Linked DNA regions of Homo sapiens. The gene in region 1 interacts genetically with each later gene. Each region holds a gene or a part of one and is shown on either strand. Other genes may lie near its edges.

Region 1 (7,735 bases):
TATTTTCAAGGGTCTTCCATTCTTGCTTTAAAATAAACAAAGTGGTTTTATAATGTTCTCTCATCCCAAAGAATGATAATCTGGGAAAACTTGAACAGAAATTCACTTTGATGTATTCCATCTTCCGTTTCCAAGGGCACCCATGAATGCACCTTCACATTCCTCTCAATTACAATGCAGTCTTTCTTCAAATTGATGAAACGTGCACCTCCTGAGAAAACTCTTTTGAAGGAGTCCCCTCATGCAAGTTTTTGATGCAGTCAGGTTCCTGAGCAGAAGAGTTTGGATATCAGATTCAGAAGTTTCTGCCGGAAGTTCAGTTTGTCTCCAAATCTCCTGAGTTGAGTAGCACACTCGACTTCCAGCTCTGAGAAGGAAAGCAAAACATGGACATGAACATTGATGATATTACAGACTGTAACCAGCAAAACCTAATACGCCCACACTAGTGACAAATTGAGTATCCCAGGAAGCATTTCTCTTAACTTTGGCTTTATGTGCACCTGTTTTCCAAATGTGACACACACACACACTTACACACATTGTGACTCACCGAAAGCAATCGTTAAGGTAAGAATAAAGACATTTACTTTGAGTTTTTAAAAAACGCATCCTGGATGAGGCAAGTGTTACCTTACTTTCAAATATGTCAAATACCACAAAGAGTAGCATTATCATTCTTTGGGATGTGAGAACATTGTAAAACCACTTTGTTTATTTTAAAAGCAATGCTACAAAGAGTAGCATAAGTCACCAGCCTTAGATGATGTCATCTTTTTCTCTTCATTTAAGGTTGGCTGGGAAACAGAAGTCAAGTTCTGTGTGGCTTTCAAGTAGGATTTGATTTTCAAATGGCAATAATTTACAGCTTAGGTTATACTCTCATTATATAGGCAAATCTAGAGGTATTCTTTTTCTCGTTAAAAAACGCTGATATTTTTTCATAAAAGACTCATAAAATCTTATTCTAAAATTAAGTCCACATTCTCTAAAATAATTTAAACATTTCTATTTTAATGTAAACCCACTTCTTCCTATAACCCCATTATGTACCAATCCATTGCCTTTATGGAAATGAGAGGAGCAGAAAATAAGCAATGTTTAATTCACATGTTTACTACTTTTTGGAATTGAGTTATTCTAACTGAATATTAAGAAAAATGATGCTTATAATTTCCAAGTACACTTTTTTTCAGTAAGTGCAGTTAACACTATACTGACTATAATATCGTATCTATACTGACTATAATTTCAATTTTCTTGAATATTTCAAAGAGCAGCTTGAGGTCTTTCGGGTACACTTCATGATTACAAACATTAAAAAATCATGATTACAAATTAAAATCTGGTCTATTTTATAAATCGACCCTGAAAATACCGTATTTAGGCTCAAAATAAATCAAAGCTGTCAATATATAGTAAAGCAAAATCTTAAACCTATATTTCAACCAATTTCTCTCTACAAGAAGTGAGTGAAATCTTTCCTAACTCCTACACCAAGAGACCTAATAAATCCCTTAAGGTGTTATTCTTTATGGGCTACAAGATCAAATATGTTGGGAAGTATTTACATAGACATGTTGTCTACAGAGATTGAGATATATTAATATACAGTTCTAAAAGAAAAACCAAATACCATTCAGCGTCCGACACTGGAAGCCCTGAATTCTAAGTGGAAAAGTTATCCCTTTCACCAAAAATGTAGAAAACAAGGCAGAAAATACTTCCCGGTCATTTCCTTAATTTTTTAAAAATTGCATTACACACCTATAAATGTATTAGTATCAATCAAATCAAGTTTAAGAGGGACTTTGTGCTGCTTCCTGTTCTTGGGAATTAAGTCGGACCAGAAAGTGCTATGCATAAGTAAGATCCTTCAGAAAGAAACAAGGTCAGAATCCTAAGACATCACAAAAGGTAGACAAAGCTTTTTCCATCCCACACAAGCGCCAGAGACAGCAGCCTGTTACCAACTTAGGCATGGTCACATTTGCAATGCACCACTTCCTTCGCACGCCCCAGGAGCTCTATAAAATGAAAGTAACTTAAAAGGTGGGGGGGGCGTATAATCGTCTGATGCAACAGCAGTATGGCCCACACAGACTTCGGGCTCTGGGCAGTGACTGGGTTCTCTGTTTAGATTTAGAAAAAGCATGGGGCCGGGGCGCTGGCCTGAAAACTTACGATGGAGCTGTATGTATCGGGGTGGGGAGTGCGAATGAATGAATGAAAAAAAGGAGCGGACTAACTCCTATTCTCCTATCCCCACCTCCCACAATATCGATTATTTAAATGTTACAAGATTTTCTAGGCTCCTGAACACAGGGGCCCTTGTGGGGCCGTCTCTGGAAGCGCTGGGAGTCCAGGCGGTCCCCGGGGCTCTCTCCTGCCCCTTCTGCCGCGACAATGACTTTCTCCTAGAGACAGCCGCCTACACTTGCACTTGTTCCTCGTGGCCCCGGGGAAGGGCAAGTGGCGAGGAGGAAAGAGAGGAGGAAAGGAGCTTTTTGCCCCTGGTGAAACGCAGCTGCATCCCAATCGCAAATCCGGCTTGGTCCCTCGCCGTACCCGCCGTACCCGCCGGTCCTGGGGAAAAACCCCGAAGAACTTTCTGGAGGCGCCCCTAAGGCTCGCGCCAGGGCACAGACCTGGCCCGACCTTGACCCCCGTGCAGTCTGTGCTTGAGCCCCGGCGAGCTGAGCCCGCCCCAGCCGAGACCTCGACCCCGGCCCCGACCCCGCCCGGCCTGGGTCTTCGCTGGCCCCAGCGGGTCGGTACCTGCTGGAGCCCGCGCGGGGCTCGGTTGAGCGTTCTTGCGCGCCTTCTTCCCAGGCATCTCCGCCGGTGCCGCCGCCCACTCAGCTACAGAGCCCGGGAACCTCAGCCTCCAACTGGAGCACCTCGGACAGCTGCAGGACGCGAGCTGAACACGAACAGTCCTGCAGGCAGGGATGCTGGGATCGGGTGTCCGGACGCGCGGAGATGCCAACTACACACGGTGAGTGCCCGGGAAACTCTGAGATCCCCGCGCCAGAGACCACGCTTTTGTCCAGTGAGAACTTCCCTGGTGACGTAGGGAAACTAGACGCCCGGCCCGCCCCTGTCCCCGCCCCTGTCCCCGCCCCGCAGACGGCGTTATGGGAGCGGACGCGGGACGCGGGCGGGGAAGTACCCCGCTGAGCGCGACCTGCCCGGACACGCTCCCGACCCGCGGCGGCGCCGACCCGCGGCGGGGGGCGCAGAGCGCTCGGCCCCGAAATTACTTCCTTACAAAACGAGGTGGGAGGAGAAGGGGGTCGGCTTTGACCATCTGCAAACGCTGGACGTCGTCAGCGGCAGTGGTGGCGGGAGCTGGGAGTGGCGGGAGCTGGGAGTGGCGGGAGGGGAAGGGTTTAACCAGGAGGAACGTTGTGGGTGGGGAGAGACCAGAGGCCTTGGCAATTAGAGACTTGGGTAAACAAGCCCAGAAAAGAGATTGGAAAAGGAAACTTTTCGAACTTGAAGAGTATGGGCAGTAACAGGGAAGGGAAATGAGAAGAACCTTAATCACCGCAGAGGAGATGCCAGAGGCCCTGTGAGAAAGCTCCGGGTCCCAGGAAGTCACTGCAAACAGAAGCCCTGGTGCCAGCCAGAAAGAACATCGTGTTTGAGTTGGGAAGGGATTTGTGTGTGTCCTTCCAGATAGGTCGATATCGCCCATTGTGGATGTTTAGCAAAAACGAGTGGATCGTTATCATATGGAAAACGTTCAAATCTTTTGTGGGAGGGCTGAGCTACCTGGGAACGTGAAATTATTTGCATAATGTTTGGCGAGGCCATGAGTAATTCTACTATTATGAAGAGGAGTAATTAGGAGTGGTTAACGGTTACTGAGAGCCGCTTCATGCTAAGGACTTTGACATGCATTTTCTCATTCCGTCCTCAGAACAACCGTTGCTACTTTACGGGTGCAGAAACTGAGGTTTGTAGAAAATTGCCCAAGTTCACTTAGGCAGAGAGCACTGCCCTGATTCCGAACCAGGCAGGCCCACAGAGAGCAAGAGCTCTTACCCACTGTAGCCTTCCCAGCAATCAGTTTCTTAGAAAATGTGTGTTTTCGCCGAACGCGGTGGCTCACGCCTGTAATCCCAGCTCTTTGGGAGGCCGAGGCGGGTGGTTCGTTTGAGGCCAGGAGTTCGAGACCAGCCTTGCCAATATGGTGAAACCCCGTCTCTACTGAAATACAAAAGATTAGCCGGCCTTGGTGGTGCACGCCTGTCGTCCCAGTTGCTTGGGCGGCTGAGGCACGAGAATCGCTTGAACCTGGGAGGCGGAGGTTGCAGTGAGCCGAGATCGCGCCACTGCATTCCAGCCTGGGTGACGGAATAAGACTCTGTCTCAAAAAAGAAAAAGAAAAAAAAAGCGTGTTTTCATATTAGCTGTGCTGTTTAATGAAAAGATTGCAAATTCGTTGCATGGGCTCCCTAGAAGTGCTTAGTTTGGTTTACAGTATTGGCCTTCAAAATGTATTGTAAAAATTTGAATTGATTACCAACATTTTAAACATTGAGGGATTGCATGAAAAACCCAGATTCCAGCATCTCTTGGAAAACCAGAATCTCTGACAACGTGGGATCCATTTTCCAAAAGTGCAAACTAGGTTTGAAGTGTGGTCGAAGCCACACCCTTTAGAGGAACCTAGGGTGCTCCTGTTCACCACACTCCCCGCTGTTTGCTTTTCCCATTTACATTATCTGGCCTCAGTAGGCATTTGAGGTTGTTTATTTATCTTAAATCATTCAGTCAACACAAACCAGCAAGTATTTATTTATGGCTTGGTCCTGCTGAAGGTATGGACAACAATATAAGCATGGAACAAAACTGCTCTTGAGTTTAAACAACATAGTTTCGAGGCTGATGTTGGCTGTTTTTGAATGGGGTATATACAAACGAGTAAAAGTGGACAGAATTTAGGAATCATCACAAGACGCAGGAAGCACACTGGAGATGCTGCCTTGAAATCTATTATCCCCAAGTGGTAATTCAAAACCACTCCAGGCTCATTTTGACTTACCTAATACATAAGGAACACCGTTAACTTTTTGGTTGCATAAATTATTAAATTTCTGTCGTTCAAATACGCACCCTGAAATGCAGAGAATATACTCAACAACCACCAAAAAAAAAAAAAAAAAGTGAATCACAACATTGTTTACCTATAAAAGGTATGTTAATCCCATCCTCTAACATTTTCATTAGAAAAGAATTGGTCATGTGACTCACACTGGCTACAAACCTTAGGCAACTCTGTTTTTTAGGGAATTGCAAATTCAGCTTGCAAGGAGGAAAAGAGCGGAAAGAAGTCGGGCGAGGTGGGTTTTGGACATGGGTCAGATTCAGCTGGTTTATAGAGGACTTTTAAAGATTTAGGATTTGAGATGGTCCATAAACTCTTTGGCAGATCTAACATTCTCTAAAGAGAATTGGCCAGGCATAGTGGCTCACGCCTGTAATCTCAGCACTGTGGGAGGTGGAGGCTGGGGGATCGCTTGAGTCCAGGAGTTGATGACCAACCTGGGTAACATGGTGAAACCCTGTCTCTGCAGATAATACAAGTATAAGCTGTAGTGTCAGCTACTCAGGAGGCTGAGGTGGGAGGATTGCTTGAGCCAAGGAGGAGGAGGTTGCAGTGAGCTATGATCGAGCCACTCCACTCTAGCTTGAGCGACAAAGGGAGAACCCTGTCTCAAAAAAAAAAAAAAAAGCTAGAAGCAGAGTGAATAGCTTCTTTTAACTGTATATCCTCTGGAAAAGGGAGGTATCATTTAATGTTGGGCTTGCAACAAATATAAACATGGAGATATTTGACCAAACGAAATAATTAATAAAAATGTATCATGAAGCGTTAGAATTCCCTACTATTTTTTTTTAAGTAGGACTGGTGAAAATGACATTTTAAAAAACTATTAGATAATCCTTTCTCGTGAAACAAGTTCAAAAATGACAGTGCACATCTGATCATTTCGATGTCAGTGTTTAAAAAAAGAAAAATGTATACGTATCTATATATATATATGAACCACAATGACAAAACAAAATAAGCATGATTAGTAATAGAATAGTCATTCATATATTTCTTGCAGAAAATAGGATTTGACAGTTAAACAAGAGGACATGAGATATAAATGAGGCATATGTAGAGTCAGCCTGGGATAAAATATACAGGCTGTAGATCGATTGTGTTTGTTCTAATAAAAGTGTTTGTTGTTGTTGTTTTCCTGTATAGCATGTTTGTTAACAGGAAATTAGCCAGAGTATTTGATGGATTATATCTCTCACGCCTGTAATCCCAGCGCTTTGGGAAGCCGAGGCAGGCAGATCACTTGAGGTCAGGAGTCTGCCAGCCTGGCCAATGTGGCAAAACCCCATCTCTACTAAAAATACAAAAATTAGCCGGGCGTGGTGGTGCATGCCTGTAATCCTGTAATCCCAGCTACTCAGGAGGCTGGACTGAGACAGGAGAATCGCTTGAACCCAGGCGGAGGTTGCAGTGAGCCGAGATGGCGCCACTGCACTCCAGCCTGGGCAACAGAGTGAGACTCTGTCTCAAAAAAAAAAAAAAAATCTCTCTTTAAGACAGACACTGAGGCCAGGCACAGTGTGGCTCACGCTTGTAATCCCAGCACTTTGGGAGGCCGAGGTGGGTGGATCACCTGAGGTCAGGAGTTCGAGACCAGCCTGACCAACATGGTGAAAACCCATCTCTACTAAAAATACAAAATTAGCTGGGCGTGGTGGCACATGCCTGTTATCCCAGCTACTCAGGAGGCTGAGGCAGGAGAACTGTTTGAACACGGGAGGTGGAGGTTGCAGTGAGCCGAGATTACACCATTGCACTCCAGCCTAGGCAACAAGAGCAAAACTCATCTCAAAAAAAAAAAAAAAAAAAAAACAGGCCGGGCGCGGTGGCTCACGTCTGTAATCCCAGCACTTTCAGAGGCCAAGGCGGGCAGATCATGAGGTCAGGAGATCGAGACCATCCTGGCTAACACGGTGAAACCCCGTCTCTACTAAAAATACAAAAAATTATCCGGGCATGGTGGCGGGTGCCTGTAGTCCCAGCTACTCAGGAGGCTGAGGCAGGAGAATGGCGTGAACCCGGGAGGCGGAGCTTGCAGTGACCTGAGATCGCGCCACTGCACTCCAGCCTGGGCGACAGAGCGAGACTCCGTCTCAAAAAAAAACAAAAAAAAAAGACAGACATTGAGCTAGGCCAAGGGAAGGCAATGCTCCCTGCCCCTATGCAATCTTTGGTGGAGAGACCAGTAACTCAGAAATTTCATGTGCATAAGAATCACTTGAGTATCTTCTTAAAATGTGCATCTGATTCTGGAGCTCTGCTTGGACCTGAGATTCTGCATCTTTCGTGAACTGTCACGATGTTGATGCTTCTGCTCTGTGGACAACTTTGAGTAGCAAGGCCAGAGGGTGATATAGAGAGTAACCCAGCAGGTGCAATAAGATGTGTGTCAGTCCTGAGCCAGGGAAATTAGAGCAGATTACAGGGCTGCCTGGGAGAGCAATCAGTAGGAAAGGGCATCAACATAGGGACCTGAGGCTCGAATAGAAGTCGGCCAAGCAATCACACCAACCAAAGGGAAGAAGGACATTCTCGGCAGAGACTGACAGCAGTGTGAGGTCAGGAGTGGTGAGAAGTGATGGGGAGAAAAGCCACTGGAGGAGTTTGGATATTATC
Region 2 (7,027 bases), on another chromosome or scaffold:
CCACACAGCTAGCAAATGGCAGAACCTGGAGGCCAACCCAAGCAGTGTGGCTGCAGAGGCTGAGCTCATAACCATTGTTACATTGCAAGTACACTACTTGCATCTATAGGGGATTCATAAAATCTTTCTTATCTCAACAAAAGTGAGGTGGCTTAATAAAAATAAATGTGTGCGGGTGCCACATTAAGTGCATATATGTGATGTTTCTCTCTCTCTTTTTTTTTTAAGACACAGTCTCACTCCGTCACCCAGGCTGGAGTGCAATGGCGTGATCTCGGCTCCCTGCAACCTCTGCCTCGTGGGTTCAAGTGATTCTCCTGCCTCAGCCTCCTGCGTAGCTGGGACTACTGGCATGTGCCACCACACTCAGCTAATTTTTGTATTTTTTTTTTTTTAGTAGAGATGGGGTTTCACCATGTTGGCCAGGATGGTCTTGAACTCCTGACCTCACATGATCCGCCTGCCTCAGCCTCCCAAAGTGCTGGGATTATAGGCATGCGCCATCACCCCCAGCCTTTTCTGAGTATTTTTAATCTTTGGTTGGTTGAATCCACAGACATGGAACTCATGAATACTGAGGGCTGATTGTATATATTTGAATACCAGTAATTCTTACTACTGCAATTCTATGTTCCAGCCACAGCAACCTTTTAAAGGTGTTCCTCAAACAGGCCAAGCTCATCACTGCACCTCAAGACCTTTGCCTTAGAATGCAGATCATTCAGGTCTCAGCTCCAATGCCACCTCAGGCCTCCCAAACCAACCTAAGAAAAATGCCCTTCCTCCATTCCTCTCTGCACATCCAGAGACAAAGTCTTGAGATGGTACAAGAGACACTCTGATTGGCTATGAGACTGAAATTTTAATTTGGAATAACCAGACTTTTAAGAAAAGCCCAGGAAAGCTATAGGATCTGGCTGAAATGTCAACATGAGGAAGAAAAAGAACATTCAACAAAAAATAGTCAAAAGCAGTTTTTTGGGGAAAAATTATTTTCTGTTGTAAATAAGTGAGTAAAATAGTGGCTCCACCTTCCGAACACTTTTTTTTTTTGAGACAGGGTCTCACTCTGTCGTCCAGGCTAGAGTGCAGCAGCATAAACATTGCTCACTGCAGCCTTGATCTGTGCTCAAGCAATCCTCCTGCCTCAGCCTCCCATGTAGCTGAGATTACAGGCATGCACTAACATGCCTGGATAATTATTAAATTTTTTGTAGAGATGAGGTCTTACTATGTTGCCCAGACTGGTCTTGAACTCCTGGGCTCAAGCGATCTTCCCACCTGGGCTTCTCAAAGTGCTGCAATTACAGGCGTGAGCCTCCGCATCCGGCCTTGAACATTCTTATCACGTTGTTTTCGCTACCGCCCTAATTACCAGTAAAAACTATGCAAGTGTATTCTTTATGTCTTTAGTGTCAGTATTCATCCATCAGGATATAAGCCCCAAAGTCTAAGAACTTTGTCATATTCACTATTGTATCACTGATACTTTTTTTTTTTTTTTTTTTTTGAGACAGGGTCTTGCTTTGTCGCCCAGTCTGGAGTGCAGTGGTGCGATCTCAATTCACTGCAGCCTCAACCTCCTGGGCTCAAGCAAGCCTCCCAACTCAGCTTCCTGAGTAGCTAGAACTAAAACCGTACACCACCACCCCCAGGTATTTATTTTTTATTTTTTGTAGAGACGAGTTTCACCATGCTGTTCAGGGTGGGCTAAAATTCCTGGGCTCAGGTAATCCACCCACCTCAATCTCCCAAAGTGCTTGGATTACAGGTGTGAGCCACTGTGCCCAGCCTGAAATTTAAAATGGTATCCAGTACAGCATAAATGCTCAGATTTTTATGGAATGAACAAACCACAGCTACACAGATCAATTACCTTTGATATTATTTGTATGTACTCCATGGATTTGACCAATGTTTTCTAATTTTTATTTTTGTAGAGGTGGTAGGTCTTGCTATGCTGCCCAATCTAGTCTCCAACTCCTGGCCTCAAATGATCCTCCTGCCTCTGCTTTCCAAAGTGTTGGGCATGAGCCACTGCATCCAGCCTCTGACCAAAGTTTTAACCTGAGCTGTATCCTGCTTTTTGTTTGTTTTTTTTTGTTTGTTTTTGTACAAATGGGGTTGCCCAGGCTGGTATCAAACTCCTGGCCTCAAGCAATACTCTCACCTTGGCCTCCCAAATCACTGGGATTACAGGTGTGAGTTACTGCACCCAGCCCTGCTTTCCTTACAGAGCATATGAGGCATCTATTTCCTCCACCTACTAACCAAGGCAGGAGGCAAATGGCTCTTACTGACAACTGGGTTCACCAGGACACTAAGCAAAATATTTATTAAGAGAAACCTCAAGTAGGGGTGGTAGCTCACGCCAGTAATCCCAGCACTTTGGAAGGACAGGGCAGATTGCTTGAGCCCAGGAATTCCAGACTAGCCTGGACAACATGGCAAAACCCTGTCTCTAAACATTTTTTTAAATGAGCTGGGAATGCTGGTGTTGCACCTGTGGGAGGATGAGGTGGGAGGATTACCTGAGCCTGAGGAGGTCAAGGCTGTAGGGAGCTGTGACTGCGCCACTGTACTCCAGACTGGGGGACAGAGTGAGACCCTGTCTCAACAGAAAAGAAAAGAGAAGAGAAGAGAAGACGAGAAGAGAAGAGAAGAGAAAAGAAAAACCTCTCTGGCTGACTAGCTCTTTTGCTCATTCCTGTAATCCCAGCACTTTGGGAGGCCTACGCAGGAAGATCACTGGAGCTCAGGAGTGGAGACCAGTCTGGGCAATATGGTGAGATCCCATCTCTATAAAAAATTAGCCAGACCTAGGGTGGTATGTGCCTGTAGTCTCAGCCACTCAGGAGGCTAAAGTGGGAGGATCGCTTGATCCTGGGAGATCAAGACTGCAGTGAGCCATGATCATGCCACTGCACTGCAGCTTGTGTGAGAGTGAGACCTCCTCTCAAAACAAACAAAAACAAAAACAAAACCTCTCTTTTTACTAGAAAGATGCCTAGTATCCTCTTTCTACCTTCCAGCAGTCTAAAATTCCCCTCCTCTAATCTACTGAAAAATGACTGATCAAAATTTACCCTGAGCTGCCACTTCCTTTTAGAAGTTTTAATTAACATACATCACCTCCAGATTATGGTAATTGTTCAATCATTTATTTTCATAGAACATGAAAGATTCTACCATTTACATGTATCACAAAGTTTTACAGTTACTGATTAGTCCACTATTCCCTCTCCCATTCCTACCCATGACCAACACAGACACCCTTGAAATTTGTTTCCTCCCTAGGCTGTGTCGAATGCAACCATCTCTCTAGGACAGTACACTGAAGGAGGGGAAGGCCGCTCTAAGGCCCATGTCCCTCTTAGATATACGTTTCAAGAGGGCAATTTCTATCAACCCAATGAAAAATTGACAAGTTCTTAATAAGGTTCTCATTTATGTTTAACTAGACATATTAAAAAGAATTCTCTGGTTATGCACCTTAACCACATTCACCGATGATATTCAAATCTTCGTATCACATCCATATTCCTTGCCAAGCATGATCCTGACTCTGTGCTTTCACACTGGCTGTTCCCTCTACAAGGAACTCTTCTAAATATGTACATGACTTGCTCCCTTGCTTCATTCTGGTTTTACCTCAACTATTATCTCCTCAGAGGCATTCCCTCACTATCTTATCAAAAATAAGCCAGCTGTGATGGCTCATGCCTGTAATCCCAGCACTTTGGGAGGCTGAGGTGGGAGGATCACTTAAGGTCAGGAGTTCAACACTAGCCTGGCCAACATGGTGAAACCCCATCTCTACTAAAAATGCAAAAATCAGCCGAGCATGGTGGTGGTCACCGGTAATCCCAACTACTCGGGAGGCTGAGGAAGGAGAATTGCTTGAACCCAGGAGGTGGAGGTTGCAGTGAGCCAAGATCGTGCCACTGCACTCCAGCCTGGGCAAGAGAGTGAGACCCCGTCTCAAAAATAAAAATAAAAATAATAATAATAATAAGAGCACCGAGCACTCTCTCTTTTACCCTGGTTGTTTTTATTCATAGTACCTATCACAACTTGACTTACAGTATGTATTTCACTGTTTATGTTTATTGTCTCTCTTCCCAACAAAAATGTAAATTATACAAGGGCAGGAGCTGTCTGCCTAGTTCATCATTATCTAGTTAGAATTAGGAAATACTAAATTCTCGTTCAATGAATAAATGTATTTCCCATAGACTTAATTACTCCTGCTATGGTTACGGTTTCAATGAACAAGATGTCACTGGCACAAATGCCCCTCATCCATGGCCAATCTCACAAGCAGATTATAAATATACAGAAAATATAATAACTTTTATTTATGTGTAAAAGCCAAAAATAGATTGAGGGCTTGAGAGTATCTCTGCCCACATATTTTTCAAATATTCCTCAGTAACTATAGAACTTTATTTCAAACCCCTTGCCTAGCACTGAAGGCCCTTTGTAATCTGACCCGACTTCCCTTTCACTCCTATCCCTCTTGTTGTTTCCCTGTATTCTGGGTTTCTATGCTGCAACAATCCCAAGGAACACTATTCATATAGAATATCTAACACAGCATGCAGCCCTGCTTACACTGCAGCCACACTGATCTAGCCTAGATTCCTACCAAATTTTCTCCTAATTACCAATACAAAAAGCTTACCCATTATTCAAAATCCAGCTCCAACACTTTATTCAAAATCCAGCTCCAACACTTTCTCCATAAAATTTTCACTGATCATCCCACCAGAAATTATTTCCTCAATCTGTGAGGGAGCATAGAGCAGTTGGTAACACATCTGAAACTTTTGCCTTATCATAAATCATTAGTACCTTTTACTCTCCTTTAGCATATGGTAAATTCCCAAAGAGCATGGACATTGTTCTACATATCTTTGCATTCTCCATGGTACCTTGCATATGGATGTCAATAAAGTTATTTTAATAATGAATAACTTTTACAGGCACTTTTTATTGTTGTTGTTTTATAGAGACAGGGTCTTGCTACATTGCCCAGGTCGGCCTCAGGTAATCCTCTCACCTCATCCTCCCAAAGTGCTGGGATTACAGGCATGAGCCACCATGCCCGGCCTCTATAGACACTCTGAATCACTGCTTTACATTTCCATTTTCTTTCCTCTTAAAGGATAAAAAAAAGTCCACTGAGAAAAGTAGTATGAATCATATTTCAGTTTAAAGTTTGATTTATCTTGTGGTTCGGTTATATACTACTGCCTTCTTGTGCCTCCATCTCACTAGATCCAATCAGAAGGAGAGAGAATGAAAGTTAAGAGTTAGTTATTAGGGAGATGACGACCTCTGGCATGCTAGTGAGCCAACAAGTAACCAGCTAAGTAGGAGTGTGTACGCACACATGTATGAGAGAGAGAGACAAGAGACAGAGAGAGAGAATACTAGTTATCAGGAGAAGACCCAGCTGGAAAGATCTCAAATAATTTGAATCATCAAAGGTATCTGAACAGGAAAGTGATATGGTGAGAACTGCATTTTGATCTAGAGCTCAGATCAGAGCTAAGAGATAAAAATAGTGAAATCATGGGAGTTAAGACTGTCCCAGAAAAAAATATACAAAGATAGAAAAGGGCTGAAGATAAAATCCTGAGAAATAATTCTATTGGGGACAGGGGAGGGAAGTCAGTGAAAAACAAACGTGATTTGAGAGAGAGAAGACCAAGGAGGGAATGTCATAAAAACCAAAAGAGAAGCAGAGGAAATGAGCAATAATACCAGAAAAGAGGATAAATATTATCAGAGAAGAATCTCATTTGATAATCAGGAGGTTGCTAATACTTTTATGACTGACAGGTTCTATACAATTGGGTGGGAGAGAAGAGTAAGCCATATCATTAAGTTAAAGGGCAAAGAATTATAAAGGCAGCAAATGGGGGCTGCTTTTCCAAGAACTGTGACAGTGAGAAACAGAAGTTTGAGGCAGAGGCAGAGTACAAGTTTGTATGAGGAGGCAGAGTGCAGTGGCTCACGCCTGTAATCCCAACACTTTGGGTGGCCGAGGTAGGCGGATCGCTTGAGGTCAGGAGTTTGAGACCATCCTGGCCAATATGGTAAAATCCCGTCTCTACTAAAAATACAAAAATAAGCTGGGTGTGGTGGCGTGTGCCTGTAATCCCAGCTACTCAGGAGGTTGAGGCAGGAGAATTGCTTGAACCTGGGAGGCGGAGGTTGCAGTGAGTGGAGATCCACACCACTGCACTCCAGCCTGGGCAACAAGAGCGAAACTCCATCTCCAAAAAAAAGAAAAGTTTATATGACGCGACATATGAACTTTCTTATAGGCATAGGAGAAAAAAGGGAAACTGAAAAAAAAAAAAAAAAAGTAAGAGGGGACATACCACCAAGTCCTGGGGGGAAGATGAGGACTGAAAAAGAACAAGCAGAATGAGACAATTTGGGAGGTAGCATGGAACAGAGAAGAACATAGGAGAAACAAGAAAAATGTTTGGTATCGACCAAGGAAGTTAAGGGCACTTCAAATAGCTGGGTAAAGTAATGTACTAAGAATTAAGAGGGGTGAGGCTCAGCAAGAAAAGGTTTAAACAATTGCTGTTTGGGGTGGAACAATAAACTGGAAATGAAAAAAATGAGCACTAAGGGCCCAGATGATAATTGCAAAAGAAAAGGAACAATCACAATTACATGTTCAAAGTAATCTAAAACAGAAGATAAAATTATAATATCAGATCCCTACAAATGTTCTACAGACTCACTCTGTAAGGAAAAACAACAAAGATAAAGTAGTTACATGGAAAGGTTTTCAGAGATACAAAACCCCTAAGCAGTTAACTGTATATGTCAAAATGTGCTACACAAATCTTTACATAGCTGAAAGACTTCTAAGATCCAGCAATAGTCCACTTGCTTTAAACAGACAATAAAATTATTAGAGTCAAATTCCAATATTAAAAAAGAAAAGCAGCTAGACATGGTGGCTCACGCCTATAATCCCAGCACTTTGAGAGGTCGAGGA

The links. A genetic interaction does not mean that the proteins touch.
Region 2: of PMAIP1 (region 1) and CUL5, a change in one rescues a mutant of the other (synthetic rescue), as found in Homo sapiens cells (one study listed by BioGRID).

What each region holds. Positions count from the first base shown.
Region 1 is NC_000018.10:59,895,279-59,903,013, reverse strand, and holds the start of PMAIP1 (phorbol-12-myristate-13-acetate-induced protein 1), read right to left. Parts: upstream 3,019-7,735; 5' UTR 2,837-3,018; coding exon 2,779-2,836; coding exon of another isoform or gene 2,649-2,778; intron 2,587-2,648; coding exon of another isoform or gene 2,432-2,586; exon of another isoform or gene 368-2,431; coding exon 261-367; coding exon of another isoform or gene 166-260; 3' UTR 1-165. UniProt on the Homo sapiens protein: Promotes activation of caspases and apoptosis. Promotes mitochondrial membrane changes and efflux of apoptogenic proteins from the mitochondria. Contributes to p53/TP53-dependent apoptosis after radiation exposure. Promotes proteasomal degradation of MCL1.
Region 2 is NC_000011.10:108,011,873-108,018,899, reverse strand, and holds part of CUL5 (cullin-5), read right to left. Parts: intron 1-7,027. UniProt on the Homo sapiens protein: Core component of multiple cullin-5-RING E3 ubiquitin-protein ligase complexes (ECS complexes, also named CRL5 complexes), which mediate the ubiquitination and subsequent proteasomal degradation of target proteins.